Regions from separate parts of the Homo sapiens genome. Here region 2 is linked to region 1. Evidence: fine-mapped expression QTL. Tissue or cell type: monocytes after LPS. Region 1 holds a variant in brackets; the other region holds the start of a gene. All regions are shown on one strand. Distances are between the middles of the regions.

Region 1 (5,727 bases):
ATAAAATACGCATTATTTTTACATCATTTCTAAGGTCTCAAGTGGATGTGAGAATTACCTTCTTCATTTAATATTCTATCATATTCATGTATCACAAGATAAAGTTATTTCATAATCTTTGTATAATCAGTTTTAATGACTATATACAGTTTCATTAAAGGTTCTATAATTTACCTGAAAACTCTTCTATTAAATATTTAGATCATTTACACTTTTCCCTTATTATAAATTACGTTAAAATTTCATTGTGGATAAATACTTTGGCAATAAATTAAGTTCTTATGTTAATTCTAGAAAAAAGAATATTATATTAAAGAATATAAATATTTTAAGGATCTTGTTATATGTTGCCAAATTGCTTTCTCAAAGGATTACATTAATGCTTTCAAACAATAATCAGGAAGTTCTAACTTTAATACAACCTCATCAGCATTGAGTATCACACAACTTAATCTGCTGTACTCATTTAAAACACAATTTTAACAAACGTATTTTCTGGTTTCCCAGCCCTCACAAATTAAAAGCAAAAAATTCAAAGCAGTAAAAACTAATATTGGAAAAGGTATTTAGGCAGATTTTCTGATCACTTGGTAGTGAAAAGAAAGAAATATAAATATAAGAAATAAAATCCTAGACATCTTAGATCATTTAATGGCTAAACACATCTTCAGTCTTTAAAGTCCATGACATCATTGTTTGTTGCAGTATATAACAGTTAATGTTCATTGTAATAATACTAAATGATCCATCAACAAAAATCCAGATGACAGTAAACAAATTTTTGACAGAGCAGGAGCATCACCATCTTGGACAAGCCCCTCATTCTAAAGTTCACCTTAATAAAAAAAAAACGCCTAAATCCAAAGGGTATCAGCCTAATGGCTAAGGTCAGCATAAACCACAATAACCACAAATAACATCTCCAACCAGAAACATTCCAAACTCCTCCCCAATCAGAGACTTGCCAGCCCCGAGATAACCCCCCGCCAGCCAGGAAGATGCCAGCTCCGAGATAACCCCACTCCAAGCCAGAAAGATGTCTGCCCCAAGATAAACTCCCCTCCTCCCAGAGACATTCCAACCCCACCATAAAACTTGTCCCTCACACAGAAACATTCCAAGCTTCTAATAAGCCCCCTTACCCTAAAACCAATATGTTCTCTTAGTCTGTAAGAGAAAGTGCTCCTAACCAAAGTCAGCCAGAAGCCCCTCTCAGGTTTTATCAAAAGTAAACCTGTCTTTACTGTCAAACCACATTTCGTGTCTCTTTCCTGTTTCTTTAACTCTTACAATTTTGTTTTAGGGAGATTTCCATTAACAAGTAAAAATAAAATTTATGCTGAAAGAGGCCATCTCTGGCTGGCTGTATTTTCTTTTTAGACCTTGAATTGGTGTGAAGAGTCATAAGGGTTTGCTAAAGGAGGAGTGAGAAAGTGGGGAGGGTGTGAGCTCCATAATCAGGAATAAAAACCGGGGGTACAAGACCAGGGCAGAAAGTCATTTTAAAATTCCAGAACTTCTGACACATCTTCATATTGGTTATCATTTGTTATCTCCTTCCTATTTTCCTTGGAAGCAGAAGGGCCTGTCTACATATATTCTTGTCTTCCCAAGCAGCAAGGAAGTGGGAAGTTGAGAAAGCTATTTCCTCTCCACACTTTTTCAGGCATATTAAGAATAAGAGAACCCTGAAGGGTATAGTGGCTGGCTAGGTAATCGAAGAGAAAAAAGTAAGTCCTATTTCCTTAGCTCTGCAGCAAAGAAAGAAAGAACTTTGACATCAATCTTCATATGAAGAAAAGGTCATTAAGCTCAGTAGATTAAAAATCTGAAATGATTCTTTAACTGTATCAAACATAAAAATCACCTGGAGGGCTTGATAAAACAGAGATTGTTAATCCCTACTTCAAGAGTCTATGATTTAGTGGGTCTGAATAGAGCCTGTGAACCAAAAAGTGGCTGAGGCAGATCTCAATCGAGTTAGAGGTTTGTTTTGCCAAGGTTGAGGATGTGGCCAGGGAAAAAGAAACACAAGTTACAGTAGAATCTGCGGCCTGTACTTTTTCCAAAGAGGGTTTTGAGGACTTCAATATTTAAAGAGGAAAGAGCAGGTAGAAGAGGAAGGAGAAAAAAAAAGAGGCTGGGTGTAGGCAGTAACATGTTTACATTCTTGTGAGGCTTCTATTAGCCCTTAAAAACTACTCACTGAATCCACATTTTACATGTGAAAAGAGAGTGGTGGGGTTAAAGTCAATTATGCATTCTTCTCATGCTGCGTATATCTACATTTTACATAAGATAAAGTAAGCATAGAGTAGAGGAAGAACTCAATTATGCATTTGTTTGGGGTGGGTGGAGGAATTTCTAGTCTTATGTTTGGCCCTTACCTGTGAAAATAAGCTGTTAATTTGCATTGTCAGGGTAAGATTCAACAGCACTCTATTTTAGGGCAAGTTTATAGGAGGGATATGTATTCTGAAAGATGTGGAGTCCACGAGGAATTTCCTTGTGAGCAATTTGTGAGGGAGG[A/C]CCCCTGGGAAGATATGTGACCTTCTATTTTGCAGCTATTTGGTTGGGAACAAAAAGGAAGGCAGTTTGATTGCTTTTGTGTGACTCAGTTCCCAAGCTTCACTTTCCCTTTGGCATAGTGAGTTCGGGGTCCCGAGATTTTTATTTTCCATTCACAGCCCTGAGAATTTGCATTTCTAATAAGTTGCTAGGTGATGCAGATAATGTGGGTCCAGGGACCAGATTTTGGGAACCACAGCAGGTATGGTTCCCAGTCCTGACTAATCATCAGAATCACCTGTGATGTTAAAAACAAAACAAGACAAAAAAAGAAAAACAAACAAACAAACAAAAAAACCAGATTCCCAAGAGCCTCATGCCAGAAGCCACCAATTTGAATCTTCAGAAGTGGAGCCACCGGGAACCTGTTTATTTGATAAAGCTCCCCATTAGATCCTGGCGTTCAGCAGATGCAGAGTTCCACAGCCCCAGAGTACTCAGGATTATGCTAAACATTTAGTCAGTGTCTAAGAAAGCCTTGATTGATGGGCTGATTTAGATCCGGAGGCACTTTCAGCAGTAAAATGTGAATCCTTTTGTATGCTAAGTTTTTATTTAATTTGTGATGATGATATTCTTTGGAGAAGATCTGTACTGGTCTCTTAGCTACATAAAAATGAGCACTTTTGTAAAGGAAGTTCTCACAATTCTAATAGACAAATTAAAAAACTCTAGCACAACCATGTAAATCATCAGAATATTTCCATAGCAATAGCACAAAAACTTAAAAAAAAATAAGGAGTCCCACTTTGGGAGGCCGAGGCGGGTGGATCACGAGGTCAAGAGATCGAGACCATCCCGGCTAAAACGGTGAAACCCCGTCTCTACTAAAAATACAAAAAAATTAGCCGGGCGTAGTGGCGGGCGCCTGTAGTCCCAGCTACTTGGGAGGCTGAGGCAGGAGAATGGCGTGAACCCGGGAGGCGGAGCTTGCAGTGAGCCGAGATCCCGCCACTGCACTCCAGCCTGGGCGACAGAGCGAGACTCCGTCTCAAAAAAAAAAATAAATAAATTTAAAAAAAAAAAAAAAGATAATAATAATAATAAAAAATAAGGAGTCCAAATGGAATTATCCTGAGATTCTGTCAGATTTATCCTTTAGAAATTAATAGTTGCCTTTTATCAGAATTTCCTGGCAATGTAACTAGATTGGTGGCTCATATGCTTATCAAAATTTAGTAGGTTAGATTTTCCAGGTAACATTACTTTCTTTCCTGATATTCTTCATAGGCTGGTTTTTACAACATATTTCTCCTGGTAACTAACTGTCTATTTAGCAGAGATTAAAAGCAGAACAATGTTCTTATTTTTTCAAGTATTTTATTTCATAAAAAGGAGAGTTGTCACTTCAATAATCTCTGACTAAATTAGGAGTTGGATAATATGGGTCTAAACTGTGTAATTTCATCTTTTCTTCATTTCCATAATGGTTCTAGGTCACATTTCTTACTAACAAACTTCTAAATTTTGTGCAACCTACTTAACTGAAATGAACCATTAAGCTTTGGCTTGTTACACATTTGCACAAATGAAGAAATGGCTTGTGAGCTTAACTCTAAATTGTGGTTCATTTAGAGAAGTGGTTACTGTATAATTTGTAGATTGGGTACTGAACTCAGTATTTTTGAAATTAGATAATAGAGAGCTAATAGTGACCCAAATGGAAAAACACACCTTATGTTCACTAATGAAATGTAAAATAGAATTCATCATTCTCCATGTGATGACAAAGAGCACAAAAGCAATGTGAAAATTAACTTAATTGGAAATATTGTAAAATTATTTTCAATATCATACGTTAAATTAAGGCGTTGCTTTGATTGCTAAGTAGATAATAGAAAAAGCCGAAGTGGTAAGCCTTGTTAGAATTTGTGCAAATGCTTTACAAATTGCTGATTTTCTAGTACCATCACAACATTTAATAGTGGTACATTTAATAGAAAGGCAGTTCAAGTTGAAATAGATGACAGTTAAGTAGATGTTTTGAACAAGTTGTTCAATAACTTCTCAAACTAAATTTCATCTTCTGTATCCAGAGAGCTAAAAATATATTCCCTAGGATCTAGCACTTTCCTTACACATAGTTGGTAGTCAGTAAACACTTGTCAAAAGTAAGGGAACAGATGAATACTACAAGATAATGTAGTGGAGTCTAAGCTGGTATTGCTCACTGCAGGACAGTCAATAAGTCACGAGACAAGGTGTTGGGGCAAGAGGGCAATAACTCAGTTTATCTGCTCAACCGAGAAGATGATGGACTAATGTCCTAAAGAACTGTCTTAAGGCAATGTGCATTTCCGGTCCCTTTATTGTTAAGGGAAGAGGGTAGAAGGAGATGGAGTTCAAGAGGTGACTGATGGTTATAGGCATCTGGGCAGCAGAGAGCATCTGAGAGGGAGTTGGAAAACTTCTTTGTCCTTGGTCAGGTCACAATGCTCCTATAAATCTTTAATTATATATTTCTTATTATTATTTTATTTTTTCATATACCGAGTGAAAGCTAGGATCCCATAAATCTTTAAAATAACATTGTTCCTTGTATGTACACACTCCTTACCTCCTTGGAGGTTAGTTTTGGGAAGGAACTAGCATCCTATTATCCTTGCTTTAAAGTTAAACTACAAACTAAATTCCTTCCATCATATCATTTTCTTGGCCTTCATGCAGAGATAATAAAAATTAGTTAATCTAAAAGGTACCACCTGGAGGGGGAAGGGGGGTGTTAGGAGCAAAATGGAGTTTGTTGAGCTAGGCCTCCTTTTCACTGTTACAAAGATGCTAGGAGAAAAGTTATCTCCTTGGCACTGGAGAGAAGTCTGGGTGCAAAAGAGAAACAAATTGAAAATCAGTTGTGATTCTTCTAGGATTCGTTAATTTCATCCTCCCAATCTCTTTTGCCAGTCCAATCCTCTCCCAAGAAGTCCAGATTCCAGCTCTTACTGGACGCCTCCATTTCAAATAGTGCAGCAAACAGGTTAAGAATACAGATGCTGAACCAAGACAGCTTAGGTTCAAATCTCCAAACCCCACTGACTTTAGCTGTTTGACCACAGGCAAGTTACTTTACTTCTTGATATCTCATTTGTGAAATTGAGTCAATAATAGCATATCTATCTTAAGCTGTGCTGGAAGGATTATGTGACTTAAGACATGTAAAGC
Region 2 (5,727 bases), 870 kb after region 1:
GCTTTCTGTCTTCAACAAGGCCTAGGGATGAGAGAACAAGGCGCTGTGGGAGGAAAACAAATTGCAGCAGAGAGGGGAGAAGAGGAGTGTTTTGAAAAGAGGCAGGATAGGTTAAGTCGGGACTGATCAGCATGGGCCAGGAAAGCTGTGGTCAGGAATCCGGCTGTACCATTGAAGGTCTGGGGAGCTAGAGCAGGTTTTAAGCAAGGGAGAACACAGATAGCCTGCTGATGAACAGCACAGGCCAATCGAGTGGAGCAAGAGAAACCATCTTGCCCTTAGATTGGCTAGCATTACGGTTAAACGAGTGTATTTAATTAGTCTCCAAGTCCTGCTAATAGCTCATCCTTAATCATTTTCAAATGTTCCAATTCTTTCCATCCCTATCGCAGTTACCTTAGTTCTGTCTCCATTATTGTTTGCTTGGATTACCATAATATCCTCCAATGGCGGTTTCCTTGTCTTCAGTCTTGCCCCGCCTTTAACTCTTTGCTACCTGCAGCATAAAACATTTTTCTAAAATTCAAGTTTGATCCTCTCACCTTTAACTGAAAACCTGATCTGCTGCTCATCAACACTATCTCTGTGTTTCTAATAATGATCATCACTGTAATAGCATACTTAGCAAGCATTTACTACATGCCAGGAACTGGGCTAAACAAGATGTGCTTTTATCTTATTAAATCTTCCTAAAACATTATTACTATCATCACTATTTTACAGATGAAGAAACTGATTATTAAGAAGGTTTAGCAATGTGTCCAAGATCATACAGTTAATAAGTGTAATTGAATAACTTGTTGAAAAACCAAAAAACCCTTAAAGACAAAGTTGTGTAGGGAATAGAATTTTTTACTTGCACCTGCAAGAGGGACCGATTATTAGAGAACTGGCTTTGTAAACAAAAATGTAGGGCAGGTATTTAAAGTAAAAAAATCACAAGGATAGACAACAGCTCAAATTGTTATCAGTTCACAAGTCTGCTTGGATGTATGTGGGTCAATTTTGTTAAAATCTAGACGGTCCTTTCTATTAAGACATTACAATGCATCAACACCAAACAACAGAAAAGAAAATCCATATATCCCTGTTTTTCATGCTTTGTCTGGGACTAAAGGAAGGGCAGGCCTTTTCTAGACTATGGAATCTAAGTTTCAGAAAAAAATCATTTAAGCTGCAATATAAAGAATAATCTTGGCCGGTCGCAGTGGCTCACACCTGTAATCCCAACACTTTGGGAGGCCGAGGTGGGCGGATCACGAGGTCAAAAGTTGGGCACCAGCCTGACCAACATGGTGAAACCCCGTCTCTACTAAAAACACAAAAATTAGCTGGGTGTGGTGGTGTGCGCCTATAATCCCAGCTACTGGGGAAGCTGAGGCAGGAGAATGGCTTGAACCCAGGAGGCAGAGGTTACAATGAGCCGAGATCATGCCACTGCACTCCAGCCTGGGCGACAGAGCAAGACTTCATCTCAAAAAAAAAAAAAAAAAAAAAAGAATAGTTTTAAGGAAGGCAGAATTAGAGATAGACAAGTTATAGGAACCCAGGCAAGCCATTATAATGCCAAACTAAGGCAATGGCAGGAGGGATAGAAAGAACTGGACCAGTTTTAAATCCATTATGGGACAGGAAAGGCATGTTGCAGTCCCTTCAGCCAAGTTGCAAGTTTTGAATGAGTTATCCAAACATTATTAAATGCATCTTCAGTGATGACTACCAAGCTTTTTTCCAGGAACCAACCCTCTTTTGTAAAAATGTTAGGTTAGCCTGTTCGTTCTGGTTTCTTGGGCAGTGACTGGGATGTTCAAACTATTAATTGGGATAGAACACCGAAGCTGGTTAAAAACAATATTTCTTATAGAAATTGATCTTGAACATGGATCAAGGTTCACTGCTAGCAGGAGAATCGGAGAGTGTGTGGTAATGAAAAGTTATAGTTGAGAAAACAAGCGTTTACATCAGCAACTAATTAAGAAAAAAGCAGCTCATAAGTGGATGAATGCAGTTCATAAACACATTATATCAGTTATTACACAGGAAATCTAAGGCAGAATACTGTGAAATGCAAGGTGTATAGCTTATCAACAAGAATGTAGCAAATACACCATTCAACTAAGAAAGAAATGATAAGGCTGCATCTGGGGCTGTTGACTGGAAGCACAAAGTTTCCTTTCCTTGTAGTAGTTCCTAAAGATTCCAGTTTACATGGAAAGACAGAAAGCTGTCACACCCATGGCAGGAGCGCAGAACCCAAGCGACAAATTCTAATTTTGAACAGGCAGGTGCCAGTGCATTTCTCAAACTGCAAACTAAAATGCAGAAACACGATTTTCCTGTTTCTTAGTTTTGGACCGTTTTCCCCCCTCTAGCACGCCAGAGCAGGTTTTAATTGTTGTCAGGTCAGATGGTGAGTTAACTTTGAGTGTTGAGTTGAGGGGCCAGTGGGATGTGGGTCCAGTTGAAAGGTGGATATATGTAGATCCAGACTCGAGTGATATAGGCTGCAAATAAATTGCTAGTGAATTTATGAATTATTAGAAAAGAAAGGACATTCATTATGATTTAATCGCAGTTGAATGTAGGCAGCACAGAGGGCTTATACTGTGTCTTTTTTTTTTTTTTTTTTTAAATATACGGTGTCTATTTTGCTCACCACTCTATGCCCGGTGCCTGGAAGTGCGACTGGCACATAGTAGGTGTTGCATAGTTTCAGAATGAACTTTTTAGGAATCAAAATTCTACAAACATTGCACACAGATTTAACGTTCCCTTATTTTCCAGGTGAGGTCAGGGCGCCCTTTGGTTTCGCGCTTCTGTCCCTTTAAGAAAGTGGAGGAGAAAGAAAGCGCTGCTGGGAAAAAGGGCGGGGCCGCGAGGGGCCGCCGTCCGTCCCGCCCCCTGCCGGGCCGCGGCGCTCTGCTAGAGCGTGGCTCAGTTTTGGTAGCGGGACCCCGGAAATGTAAAGCATGAGCGGGAACAGTCGCCAGGGCGAGTGACAGGCGAGCCCTATGCTTTACTTCCGAGGGCGGTGTCAGCAAAGCTAGGTAAGGAGACAGGGAGGACGGTGCCTGCCCCTTTAAGATCGACTCCACCCCGCCTCTGGAGGAAAATGACGCCGCCGTCTACCCGTTGTGGAACGTAACTCTTTTCATCCCATCAGCTCTCCTTCTCATTAAGAGAAATACCAAGTGGTCACCACAGTCACATACTTCATAACCCATGCCTCATCGGTGCTGGGACGGGAGAGGGAAGCGCCGATCTAAATGACATGGGGTCCAAATCCCAAATAATCTCTATTTGCTCTGCGTTACCTTTAAACTTAGGCTGCGTTGTGTGATTCAAGTGACAGCCTAGTACTGCTTAACAATTAGTCTAGTGGGATACCAGGCCCTGAGAGACCCCTACGATCCCAGGACACTGATGTGGGGTAACTAACACCCACTGGAAGTCTACGCTGAGTTCACAGGCTATGTATGACCTGACATGCATTTTGACCTGCCCTGTGTTTTGATATTTGAATGAGTTGCTGATGTTTACAAGCCGAAGCTGGCCGGGCGTGGTGGCTCGCGCCTGTAATCCCAGCACTTTGGGAGGTCGAGGCAGGAGGATCGCTTCAGGTCAGGAGTTCCAGACCAGTCTGGCCAACATGGCGAAACCTCGTCTCTACTAAAAAAAAAAAAAAAAAAAAAAATACAAAAATTAGCCGGGCGTGGTGGCACGCCCCTGTAATCCCAGGACTCGGGAGGCTGAGGTAGGAGAATCGCTTGAACCTGGGAGTCGGAGGTTGCAGTGAGCCGAGATCACGCCACTGCACTCCAGCCTGGGCAACAGAGACTCTGTCTCAAAAAAAAAAAAAAAAAAAAAAAAAAAGGTGGAAGCTAATGTGTCAATATCTAGATTTTTTTGATGATTTTGAGAAATCGGAGGATCTGGCAGCATGTCCTGCCTAGCCTTTTTGAACTGTTTGAAAACAGTCTCCAGCTTGCCACAGCCCCTCTGTTATTTTACAGCCAGCCTGCATCACTCATTTATGATGTCCAGCCCCTTGTGGGGATTTGGATTTTTGACCCCTAAATACTTTAGTGGATTTAAGACCATTTAAAACATTTATGCAGAAGAGATCCGAGGTCCCCAAACAACTGGGTGTATAAGTTGTGTTTAAGTTGTTCCTCATTCTCATTTATTCTAATCCGGGTGTTTTTCTATATATATATATTTTTAAACAAATCTTAGTGATCAATTGCACAGGTGTTTTTCTGTTGGAGCAAATCTTTTCAGTTTAGGCTTGGTAAAATCGAACCATCAGATACTTTTACAGAAAGAGATTTAGGAGTTGATGTTCTTTTATTACAATTAAATGCATACAGTATTTTTAAAGGAAAAAACCTGAATCTTGATTGCATTGTTTTATGATACAACAATCTTTAATGAAATAGAGTAGTCAATATAATTTGTATTAATATATCTCTGCCCACAGACAATTATAAATTCATTAACCCCCAGAACTCTTGGCTAGACTTCATAAAGGCAAAAACTGTGTTTGCCCTGTTAACTGCTTTATCCCACCACTAGAATATAAGCTTCCTGAAGACAGAAGACTTCTGTTATTTTGTTCACAGTTACCAAGCATGCCTACTTTGTTAAATTTATGAAAGAACTTTAAAGGTACAGTTGGCCCACAATATAACAATATAGCAATATAAAATTACAACAATAAAAATAACACAAAAATAGTGTAACAACTACTTATATAGCATTTACGTTGTATTAAGTATTATGAGTCATCCAGAGATGATTTAAAGTAAAGTATACCACAGCATATGCCTAGTTTATATACAAATATGATGCCATTTTATATAAGGGACTTGAGTATCCTCTGATTGTGGTATCCTGGAAGCAGGGGATACCGGAACCAATCACTTGAGGATACTGAAGGATGACTGTATGGCTGATTTCCTGTAAGAGGCATTTTCTTGAGGATTCTTTCAAAATCAAATGCTTGTATATTTGTTGTGTTAAATTACTAAAAGGATTCTCTTGTGAAAAGTATCATTTAAAAAGATTGGATTTTCCCAATTGATGCACCAAAGCTTTCATCTGAAATGAACTTGCACATGTGAATCATCAGATACAGTAATATACACTGTAATATTTTATTTCTTTTTTTTTTTTATGAGACGGAGTTTTGCTCTTGTTGCCCAGGCTGGAATGCAATGGTGCGATCTCGGCACACTGCAACCTCCGCCTCCCGGGTTCAAGCAATTCTCAAGTAGTGAGATTACAGGTACCCGCCACCACGCCTGGCTAATTTTTTGTATTTTTAGTAGAGACAGGGTTTCACCATGATGGCCACACTGGTCTTGAACACCTGACCTCGTGATCCACCCGCCTTGGCCTCCCAAAGTGCAGGGATTACAGGCGTGAGCCACCGCGCCCGGCCAATATTTTCTTATTATGTAATAGGATCTAGAAATGTTGCTCTTCCTCAGAATTCTCAGTATTACTTTTCTTTTTTTTTTCAGAGTCAGAGGTTCCGGTTGAGATCAAGTTGGGAGACACACCCTTGTTCATTCTCCTTGAGAAGCAGCTATTATCAACAGAACATTGACAGAACCTGTGTTTGGGGAAAGGACTGATGGCTTTGAGTCTAGGTTGGAAAGCACACAGGAACCACTGTGGTCTCCTCTTGCAGGCTCTGCGAAGCAGTGGTCTTCTCTTGTTTCC

Alleles and levels. Alleles are on the strand shown, and positions count from the first base shown. SD is a standard deviation of normalised expression in the study named.
For the expression in monocytes after LPS of the gene that starts at base 3,373 in region 2, C is the low allele of the variant in region 1 and A is the other (moderate effect, 0.43 SD a copy in Fairfax 2014).

Evidence for each region. PIP is the estimated chance that this variant, and not a neighbour inherited with it, causes the effect.
Region 2: it holds the start of ETFBKMT, and the variant in region 1 is fine-mapped to the expression of ETFBKMT in monocytes after LPS (Fairfax 2014, PIP 0.95).

What each region holds. Positions count from the first base shown.
Region 1 is chr12:30,783,459-30,789,185 of GRCh38, forward strand. No RefSeq gene overlaps it. Among named protein-coding and RNA genes, the nearest start is that of LINC00941, 9.4 kb to the right of the region's middle. RefSeq lists an enhancer at 2,031-2,532. The variant A/C (reference allele first, on the strand shown) is at 2,530.
Region 2 is chr12:31,656,316-31,662,042 of GRCh38, forward strand. ETFBKMT (electron transfer flavoprotein subunit beta lysine methyltransferase) reads left to right here and starts at 3,373. Exons shown (of 4, transcript NM_001135863.2): 1 at 3,373-3,474; 2 at 5,526-5,727. The coding sequence starts at 5,639. RefSeq lists a silencer at 2,731-3,040 and enhancers at 2,742-3,243, 3,161-3,320.